2 linked regions of the Homo sapiens genome follow. The protein of the gene in region 1 purifies or fractionates together with the protein of each later gene. This does not show direct contact. Each region holds a gene or a part of one and is shown on either strand. Other genes may lie near its edges.

The links. The genes of interacting proteins can lie anywhere in the genome.
Region 2: the proteins of USPL1 (region 1) and KRT85 purify together in Homo sapiens (affinity purification with mass spectrometry; one large-scale study listed by BioGRID and IntAct). This does not show direct contact.

What each region holds. Positions count from the first base shown.
Region 1 is NC_000013.11:30,619,448-30,625,046, forward strand, and holds part of USPL1 (SUMO-specific isopeptidase USPL1), read left to right. Parts: exon of another isoform or gene 1-293; intron 294-1,625; 5' UTR 1,626-1,693; coding exon 1,694-1,792; intron 1,793-2,316; coding exon 2,317-2,445; intron 2,446-5,599. UniProt on the Homo sapiens protein: SUMO-specific isopeptidase involved in protein desumoylation. Specifically binds SUMO proteins with a higher affinity for SUMO2 and SUMO3 which it cleaves more efficiently. Also able to process full-length SUMO proteins to their mature forms.
Region 2 is NC_000012.12:52,358,181-52,362,767, reverse strand, and holds the end of KRT85 (keratin, type II cuticular Hb5), read left to right. Parts: intron 1-296; coding exon 297-517; intron 518-1,269; coding exon 1,270-1,301; intron 1,302-1,721; coding exon 1,722-1,915; 3' UTR 1,916-2,762; downstream 2,763-4,587.

The DNA.
Region 1 (5,599 bases):
ACCGTTTGATTTGAAAAAGTTTTCTAGGTTCCCTCAGGTAGATGGAAATTTTCATCAAAAACAGTTTATTCAAGGTACATAGCCTACTAGTTTCCCATTTGAGAGTACCGCAGAATGATACGACGTGTACTGCTTCTCTACGCAGAATGAAGTATAAAATTAGCACCAAATAGTAACTTTAATTTGTCAGGTGCTAAACTTTTTACATGCTTTATCTCATTTAATTCTTAGAAGAAACTAATTTTACAAGTAAGTGTCTGGACCAACATCTGCAGGTACAAAGCCTGAAAAGCGTAAGTTTGACTCCTACATAGTTCTCTTTTGTAAGTAGATTATAAATAGAACCAGCCAAAGGTAATAAGTTGTCTGTGCCTAAAAAGAAAGAAAAAAGTTAGCATCAGTAGTTCTCACCAGAAGGGGTGATTTTGCTTACCAGGGGACATTTGGCAAGTCAGGAAACTTTTGGCTGTTGGATCTAGAGGGTAAAGGTCAGTGACGCTGCTAAACATCGTCAGTGCATAGAACAGCCTTCACAAACAATTATTTGGTCAAAGATATTTGTAGTGCTGCAGTTGAGAAATTTCTGTCTTATGGTTATTTCTTCAGGAATAGGAAATTAAGATTCGCCGATACTTTCTTTAAAAAGCAGTTTTATTTTTGAAATTATTCCTTGGCTTGAAAGGTTTGTGAAGTTTATATAGCCGAACCAGAATAGCGTAATTAGATTTTAAAGTGAATTGTGAGCCATCGATTCCCAGGAGATGGGTGTCATAGAATCATGGATTCTTGGATTTGGGAAAGACTTATGCCTAGAATTATTTTACAACATTTCTGCTAAGTGGTAATTCTCCTCTGCCCTAAAGGTCTCCTGTATTTGATTTTCCTATCATTGTGAACCCACAATTAAAATGCTCTTAATTATTTTTTGCTTACACTGAGCTCCGGTCTCTTGTAATTTTTACTCTGTTAAATGTGGTTCTGCACCATAGGACTGCACTCAAAACAAGCTTGCCACATATGTAATTTGTACTAGGACAGTGTTTATATTTTTGTTCAGATAACAAAATAAGTTAAATGTGGTGTAAATTAGATCATTTACAAATAATAATTTGTTAGCAGCTTTTAATAAGTAGTATTTTTCCCAACTGGTGAAGTATTAATGTTGGTAGTTGAAAACAATAGGAATGTATGGAATATATGGTTCACTGGTTCTTTTGTTCCTGTCAAATAGTGGCACAATGGATCTGGGGTTTTTCTCAGTATAATGCTGGCATATTTGTTTCAAATTGTACATAGACTCTAAAAAGTTAGGCTTTCAAATTCTGGTCAATATAGTTTGCTTTAAATAGTAGCTGCCTCTACTACAAGTTTTATTTAATTTGTTGACAAATGAGTCTGCTATGAAAACCGGTCCTGTTGCCAGTCACTACCCTCTGTTCACAAATTTGCTGGGTTTATAAATATAGGTATCATTTTCACTTCAAGATTATAATTTTAGAATATGTTTATTCTAGGACATATAGCCCTCAAAATCTGCTTACTATATACGTCTTATAAAATAGCATGGTTCTTTTTTATAGTAAATAGAATTTTTATTTAATTGTCTATTGACTTTTTTTTTCCAGGGTTCATTGAAAAAATCCTTAGTGATATTGACATGTCTCAAGTGACATAAATTAGCCAATGACTCGGAATGATGGATTCTCCGAAGATTGGAAATGGTTTGCCAGTGATTGGACCAGGGACTGATATAGGGATATCTTCACTCCACATGGTGGGGTATTTGGGAAAAGTTAGTGAACTTATTTTTTGCCTGAGTGCAAAGTTTTTTTTTTTTCTCTATTTTTGAGACTTAAATTCAATTTTGATGTTACCAGTTAACTTCTAAAAAATTGTGTCTTCCACGGAAATCTTACAGTAATGGCGAAAGATTGTTTTAATGTGTTTACCTTTCTGTGTTTTATTGATACATGAAAGTGGAAATAAAACATAGACCTTATGATTTACTGTTCTTTGAAAATATGGTACATAAATTCTCCCGGGTAATTGATGTTACTTTTTTCCTTGCAAATAAAATTGATACTATTCTTAACACATAAAATTTAATATTTAAAACTATAACATAATTCTTTTTGGAATAATAGCTGTATTTAAAGGCTTATATGCATTTCTTTTGTTTGCCATGTTTAAAATACCTTGTCAGGATACTTGTAATTGAAAATTATAATTTTTTCTGGTTACCTTTCCATTTAACTTTTAATATTTTGATATATTCTAGGAATGTCTATATTTTAATTTGCTTTATTTCTCTTTTAGAATTTTGATTCAGCTAAAGTTCCATCAGATGAGTATTGCCCTGCTTGTAGAGAGAAGGGAAAGTTAAAAGCCTTAAAGACTTACCGAATTAGTTTTCAAGAATCTATCTTTTTGTGTGAGGATCTGCAGGTAAAGTATTAATCTTATATAGTATATATAAGATTTTTCTTTTTTCTTTTGCTTTTTTATTAATTGTTTTAAAAGTTTACTCATTTTTTGTTTTTTAGACTAGATTTTTAATATGTAATCTCAGTTTGTAAGTCTGTCTGGTATACAATGTTATTTTTCCACCTACCTTTACTTGGTTGCGTAAAGATGTTCGTTTTTATTGCCATTTGATTTGCGAGAGGAGAAAATACATTTCAAGGTTTTTTTCTTTTTTTTTAACCTTTTGGAGGTCCTTGTTAGCTATTAGCATATAGTAGTTACTCTCTCATCTCTTTGGTTTATCTTTGCAACTGATGGGAAAAGTTATGAATTTCTAATGTACCTGGAAGAGTATTTTGGAAATTGGTTAGTCCAAAACCAGTATATATACTCTGAACTAAAGAGAGTATAGAATCTTGTAAATTCTAAAAGATCCTTTTAGAAGCTCTAAATCGCTTTTAGAATTATAGTAATTTGTACCGACTGGTACGGCTTTTATATAGCAGCTCATTAAATTCTGTAATACTCCACATTTTATTGTATTTGACAGTTTATGAGACTGTCTCATACACTTTTAATTCTCAGAACTTTGCAAGATTTGTATTCCTATTTCATGAATAAGAAAATAAATTGATTTCAGAGGGTTTGGGAACATAAGATCCTGATACAGTGGCAGAGCTGTGGTTGGAATACAGACTTCTAATTTCAGATCTGTTTATTCCAGCAAAAAATTAGCAGTTCATCAGAATTACCTGGAGTGCTTTTAATAAATTTCTGAGTATCACCCCCAGATGCTGATTCAATAGAGTTGGCCCAGAATTCTGTGGTTTTGTAACATTTGAGGATGAGTCTGATCATCATCAGCCAGGTTTGGAAAATACTAGACTAAATCACATGGTTGTTAATAGATACTTATGCTGGGTATAATTTGAAGTAAAGTAATCCCAGGCGTGTCTACAAATATAAATTTCTTTATGTTTATATTCAGTAATTTTTTTTATGAGTGTCACTGTTTGGCACTGTTGCAGATACAATGTTAGGATACAATAATAAAACAAAAATTTCTTGCCCTTAAGGAAGTTATGTCATAGAGTGGGAAAGACAGTGAACAAGTATGTGTTTTTCTGTCAGGTGATAAAAAGTGCTGTGGAGAAAAATAAGGCAGTAGGGACTGGAATGCCAAAGTAGGGGGAGTTTGCAATTTTAAATAGGATGGTGAGGGGAACGCTTCAATGAAAAGTGCAATTCGAGCAAAAGCCTGAAAGAGGTGAAGAGCAGTGAGCTTTCTAGGCAGGGGAAGCAAGTTCCAGGAAGGCCCTGAGAGAATGGAGGCTGCCTGTCATGTTTGTGCTACTGCAATGAAAGCAGCAGAGCGATAGAAGGTGGATCAGAAAAATAATGGGGGAGCTGGACCAAGTAGGGTCTTATAAGCCATTGTAAGCTTTCTGGCTTTTACTATGGGTGAAACCAGGAACCATGGCAGAGATGTTGGCAGAGGAGTGACATAAGTTGACTTCAGTGTTAAAAGCATTACTGTGGCTGCACTGTTGAAAATATATGTAATGGGCAAGACCTGAAGCAGGGAGATTAGTTATAGTATAATATGAATTATATTTGGTCCTTGTCTATGGTTTCCGTTACAGAGCTAAAAGTCTTGGAATTTCCTGAATGATAAGAGTGTCCTGTTATTCAGAATGAGCCTGTTTGCTAACACCGGGGTTCATACTATTGTGGTGACTTAGGATGGAGCCGTAGATAGCCTCAGATGGGGCAAGTAGCTGGAAAGACCACATGATTAGAGAATTAACGGGTTAGAACTTTTAGCCCCACGTACAGGCCTCCAGGAAAGGAGTGGAGGGGCTGGAGATCAAGCTGTATAAAAATATCAAGATTTGGATTTAATGAGTGGGTTGCTGGGGGCTGGTGCCGTGTAGGAGGTGGTATGCTTAGAGGAAGTGGAAGCTTCATACCTCTTCTGTCCCATACCTTGCCCTACTCATTTCTTCATCTATACCCTTTATAATATCCTTTAGGATAAACCAATAAACATAAGTAAGTGTTTGTTTGAGTTCTGCGAGCTGTCCTTGCAAACTAGTTATGCCCAAGAAGGGGGAGTGGGAACCTTTGTAGCCAGTCAGTCAGATGTACTGGTGGCCTGGATGTGGGATTGGCATCTGAAGTGGAGGGAGTCATGGGACTGAGCCCTCAACCTGTAGGATCTGACATGGTCTCTAGGTAGATAACATCCAAATGGAATTGGATTATAGGATACCCATTTGGTGTCCTCTGGAGAATTGCTTGGTGTGGGGAAAAAGCCCCCACACATCTGGTCACAAAAGTGTGCTGGGAGGATAGAATATGTGAAAATTGTCATAATCAAAATGGAGTCACTTGTGTTAAAAAAGAAAAAAAAATCCTGACTGGCCAGGCACAGTGGCTGACAACTGTAATCCCAACACTTTGGGAGGCTGAGGCAGGAGGATTGCTTGATCCCAGGAATTGGAGACCAGCCCATGCAACATAGTGTGGCCTTGTCTCTACAAAAAAAAAAATTTAAATTAGCTGGGCATGGTGGTGTGAGTCTGTAGCCCCAGCTACCCGGGAGGGGGACTACGGGTGCACGGCACCATGCCCAGGAGGTCCAGGCTGCAGTGAGCTGTGATTGTGCCACTGCATTCCAGTCAGGATGACAGAGTGTGAGACCCTGTCTCTATTAAAAGAAAAAAAAAAGACAAATAGATCCAGGAAAGGCTATGAAGAGAGAGCTTTCATGCATAAATACCAAAATATCTCAAAAGACTCTGCAAAAACCACACCCTTGCACAAAGGCCATCATGAAATACTTCTGAAATACACAGAAAATACATCATGAAATAAATACACAGAAAATACTTCTGCAAGGACATCTGCCCAGCAACTGCCTGGTCCATCTGTGGACGGGTGTCATCCTTGTTATTGATCCTTGTAGCCAAGGGTAATTATCTCAAAACAAGTATGTGATCCTCCTTATTTTCCTTTAAAAACCTTTTGTCTTCCCTTACCTCCCTGAACACACACAGTTTACTATGGCATGTGTATTCCCATTGGAATACTTTATTCCTGAATAAATGTCACTTTCTTTTTAGAAGCTTCTCTT
Region 2 (4,587 bases), on another chromosome or scaffold:
AGCAGGGACCCAGAGGGAAGGGAGGGGCTCTATCATATTTCACAGCAATCAGACCATGTCACTGACTTCCAAAGGAGGATCCAGCCCCTTCCTTGGCCACCCTGTGACCGCCATCAAGGAGAGATGATGAAAAGCCCACCCATCTCCTCCCTCATATTCACAGCCCCATTAACTACCTGGCCACGGGCCAACCTTCTCTCCAGGACCCTCCTCTCCCTGCCCTGGCTCCATCAGCTTGGGTGAGCCAAGCTGTGGCTTCTCTTTCTCATCCTGGCCCTTGTATCTCCACCTGATAGCGTGCCAAGCTGGAGGCTGCTGTGGCTGAGGCAGAGCAGCAGGGTGAGGCGGCCCTCAGCGATGCCCGCTGCAAGCTGGCTGAGCTGGAGGGCGCCCTGCAGAAGGCCAAGCAGGACATGGCCTGCCTGCTCAAGGAGTACCAGGAGGTGATGAACTCCAAGCTGGGCCTGGACATCGAGATCGCCACCTACAGGCGCCTGCTGGAGGGCGAGGAACACAGGTGGGGCTAAGAGGACTTTGTGGGGTTTCAGAGGTGGAGGCTGTGGTCCTCCAGGAGTGAATTTCCTTGAGCTGAGTGTGAGCTACAACTCTGGCCATGGCTAATACAATAGCTTCAATAATAATAATAATAATAACTGAATGCTTCTGTGCTAGACCTGTGCTAAGTGTTTATTTTATAATCCTCACAATCCAATAAGATAGATATGGTTTTTCCCATCTTTTTATCTTTAGATAAAGAAGCAGGCTCAGAATTCAGTGCCTTTATCATGGCTACGCAGTTAATAAGCAGAAGAGCTGGGACCTGCACCCAAGTCTCATGCCTCCCAAATCCGTCCTTGTTGAATAGCTTCCTACTGAAGCTGCTGCCACACAGGCCTGTGTGTTATGATGATGATGCACTTCTATATGCATTTAGCTCTTCATCAACCACAAAGCCCCTTCACACCCTGGTGTATCTGATTCAACTCTCCTTCCTGTGAGCTTGATTGGCACCATCCAGGCTGGCCACCATCACTCAAACTAGGGGCACTGTTCATAATCTTACCCACTGCTGCTGAAAATCAGAAAGCCTTGTCTTCATGGTTAAAACCATCAAAGAAAGAAAGCATTTAATGCAGATTTGAGGGAGCCCTTCTTGCCTTTCAGGGGTAGACTCTGTACACAGGATGACCCTCTCTGTCCCCAAGCAACCATCAGTCTCAAGGAATCCAACTCAGTGTCTGGAACTAACAGAGTTTTCTTTCTCCATAGGCTGTGTGAAGGTGTGGGCTCTGTGAATGTCTGTGAGTATCTGCCTGAAATTCTCCTGGAAAAATGGCTTTTTTGATAGAAAAGCTGAACTCATTGGCCTAACCCATGGAGCCTCGAGTGTTCCCCCAACTGTTTCACCCTCCCCTGGCTCCTCAGTGGGGGCCATGACAGGTGTTAGAGAAAGCTGAGCTGAGTGCTCTTCGCAAGTGTTGACAGTGAGCTATAGGCCATGGACCTGTGGCCTGGCAGCTTTGCTCCCCGGGGTCCAGGGGTCCTCACTTCCTTCCTGCCCCAGTTCCCTAGATGGGCTGTGCATCTCAGGGACAGGGCCTGCATTGTTGACCACCAATTCCTTGGAGAGGGAGGCAGCTCCTGCAGTGCCCTGGGGCCTGTTGTAGGGTGGGTGAGATTGCAGGGAGCTGCTCACCCCTCCATGTCTCCTCTCTCCACAGGTGTCAGCAGCTCCCGTGGTGGAGTCTCCTGTGGGGGCCTCTCCTACAGCACCACCCCAGGGCGCCAGATCACTTCTGGCCCCTCAGCCATAGGCGGCAGCATCACGGTGGTGGCCCCTGACTCCTGTGCCCCCTGCCAGCCTCGTTCCTCCAGCTTCAGCTGCGGGAGTAGCCGGTCGGTCCGCTTTGCCTAGTAGAGTCATGGAGCCAGGGCTTCCTGCCAAGCACCTGCCTGCCTGCATCACTGCACTGAATGGCATGTGAATGGAAAATGTGTGCTTGCTTCCAGAATCTTCTGGATGTTCCTACAGAGGGAAAGACCTACAGAGGGAAAGACCCTCGGGCCGCTCCCCTGCGCCTTTTCATGCTAGGGAGATGCATCCTAGTTGTCCTCCTGGCAGCTGTTTTCAGAGGCATTCCCAGCCCTTCACTTAACTCCTACTTAGCTCCAAAATACCTGTATCCAATTTGTATTATTCCCCCAGCTCTCAGGGACAAGACCAGTCCCCCAGCGTGGTGGTCAGCACGGAAGCTCCACCTTCTGGGTGGAGGCGCCATCCTAACCATCCAGCCAGGCCACCCACAACCCGAGAATCAGGGAGAAAGTCCCTCCCCAGCAGCCCCCTCCTCCTGGCTGGGAAGAATGGTCCCCCAGCAAGCACTTGCCTGTTCATTCCTGTTCATGTTTTGCTTCTCTCTCAGACTGCCTTCCTGCTTCTGGGCTAACCTGTTCCAGCCAGGCTCCTCATGTGACCTCGCAGTTGAGAAGCCCATTATCGTGGGGCATCCTTTTGCCTACAGCCCCTGGTTAGGGCACTTTGGACAGGTCTTGCTATTCAGTGAACCTTTGTACATTTCAAAGAAGACTCCATGGCTGCTCCAGATGCCCCCTTGCTGGGTGCAGGTGGGGACTGTCCAATGCAGAGCTGGCGGGACAGAGAGTTAAGCCACTTCCTGGGTCTCCTTCTTGTGACTGTCTATGGGTGCATTGCCTTCTGGGTTGTCTCGATCTGTGTTTCAATAAATGCCGCTGCAATGCAAGAGCGTGTGGTCTTGTGAGCAACTTCTCCACTCCCTTCTTGCCTCATCTCCAGATGACCAATCCCAGTCCAGCCCCATGCAGTGTTTCCCCAGTCACCCCCCAGAAACTCTGCTGCTTCCTGTCCACTTCCACAGTCTGATTCCACTCAGTCGCCCTCAGTCCCCTCAGGCCTGGACTACAGCCCAGCTCCCCACTAATGACCTCTTTCTCCCTGACCCACCCTGCGTACTCCCAGCAGCCAAAACTCCATCCCAAACTCACTGCTCTCACCCTCTCCTGCCTGGCTCAAGTCACTTCCTGGCACATGTGTGTGCTTCTTATGCCAAATGCAGGCTTCCTCTGTCACCTCCTTCCCCAGCTACTCCTCAGCCCTGTCCAACCCCTCCATGCGGTGCTCATCCTCCCAGTCATGGACTCCACCCCAAGGAGACAAGTCTACCCTCTGAGGCAGCCCAGAGACACTCTCTCCTACATACCCCTTGTGGACACATAGGCCATCCCACATCCCTCCTCCCATTTGCCTTTGCTCAGGGCCCTCCTCTGCTCCCCAAAGCTACCACCCTCACCCCTACACCCCCCAGCCCTCCCCCGCCCCCATCATATAGTGTCTGGAACCCTGAGAATCTCTGGTTTTGTCTCTGCGGATCTGGGCCAGGGATGTCAACGGGTGTGTCTGGATCAAGCTGGAAATTCCATAAGGACAGGAAGTATCTCCTCCTGGCTCTGACCTCCCACTGAGTCCCAGGATGGGGCTCCAAGATATGCCAGGCCTGGGATGTGCTGGATGAATGCAGGCAGCTGGTGCAGCAGGAGGTAGAGACATCCAGTCCTCTTGCCCTCAGCTCCATCTCCCCATTAGCTGTCACCGTCATCAAGCAGGTGTCTGCCAGCCCCCTGCTGCCCCATCCTGCAGCCTCTTTCTCTGAGAGGAGAAGATAGGGCCTTGTGCATCCTCACTTTAGGCCCAAAGGGCTGTAGCCCCACTGGAGGCTGCTGGCTGCTTCTGAGTGCTTAGGCTGCTGCTCTGTTTGAGGTTTGCTGGCTGACACCTGGCGGGCCTCCTCCAGGTCTCTTGCCTGCTGCCTCCTTTTTCCCAGCTGTTTGGGCCCTGAGGGCATGGTGACAATCACAATAGGCCAACTTTCAATTTAGGGGACATCATTCACCCACAGGAAACGTTAAATCCCAGGGGCTGAAACATCAGGAAATGGAAATTTGAGCCCCAATTCTGCCAAGACTGCCAGGTCTCGGTGAGTCCTTGGGCAGGAAGTGGCTTTCATGCTTTGCATGTCAGTCTGGGGTCTATGAGATGAGTGGGTAGAGTCCTTACCAGGTCTGCTGCCTCCTATGGTTCTGAGATGCTACAGAGAGTCTATGCTTGGGGAAAACAGCTTCATGTTACCATGGATCTGGGCTGAGCAAAACAAAAATGCCAAATCTGATACCCAAAAAATAACGGCACCATGGATTGAAAAGTCAAACAGCCAGAACCTGGGAGATAGGAATGAATTTTTTAATACATTTCCGTGCTTTGTGTGCAAATACCATTCAACAGATTCAGCTGGCCAGAGGTGCCTTTTGCTTATGGGGAGGTAAGCCTCTGCCCCAGCCCTCCTTGCAGCCAACAGCAAAAACCCACCACAGCAAGCTCTTCTGGCTCAAAGGATGCTGGGGCTCCTGCAGCTCTCTCCTGATCAAAGAACTATTCCCCTCGGAATGCAAAGGGTACAGTCCAAGGGTAACTAAGGATTAACATTTTATTAGAAAGAAAAAATTCTGAAGAAGTCAAGTGACCTGAAATTGAGAGATCGAGGAAAAGCCAGA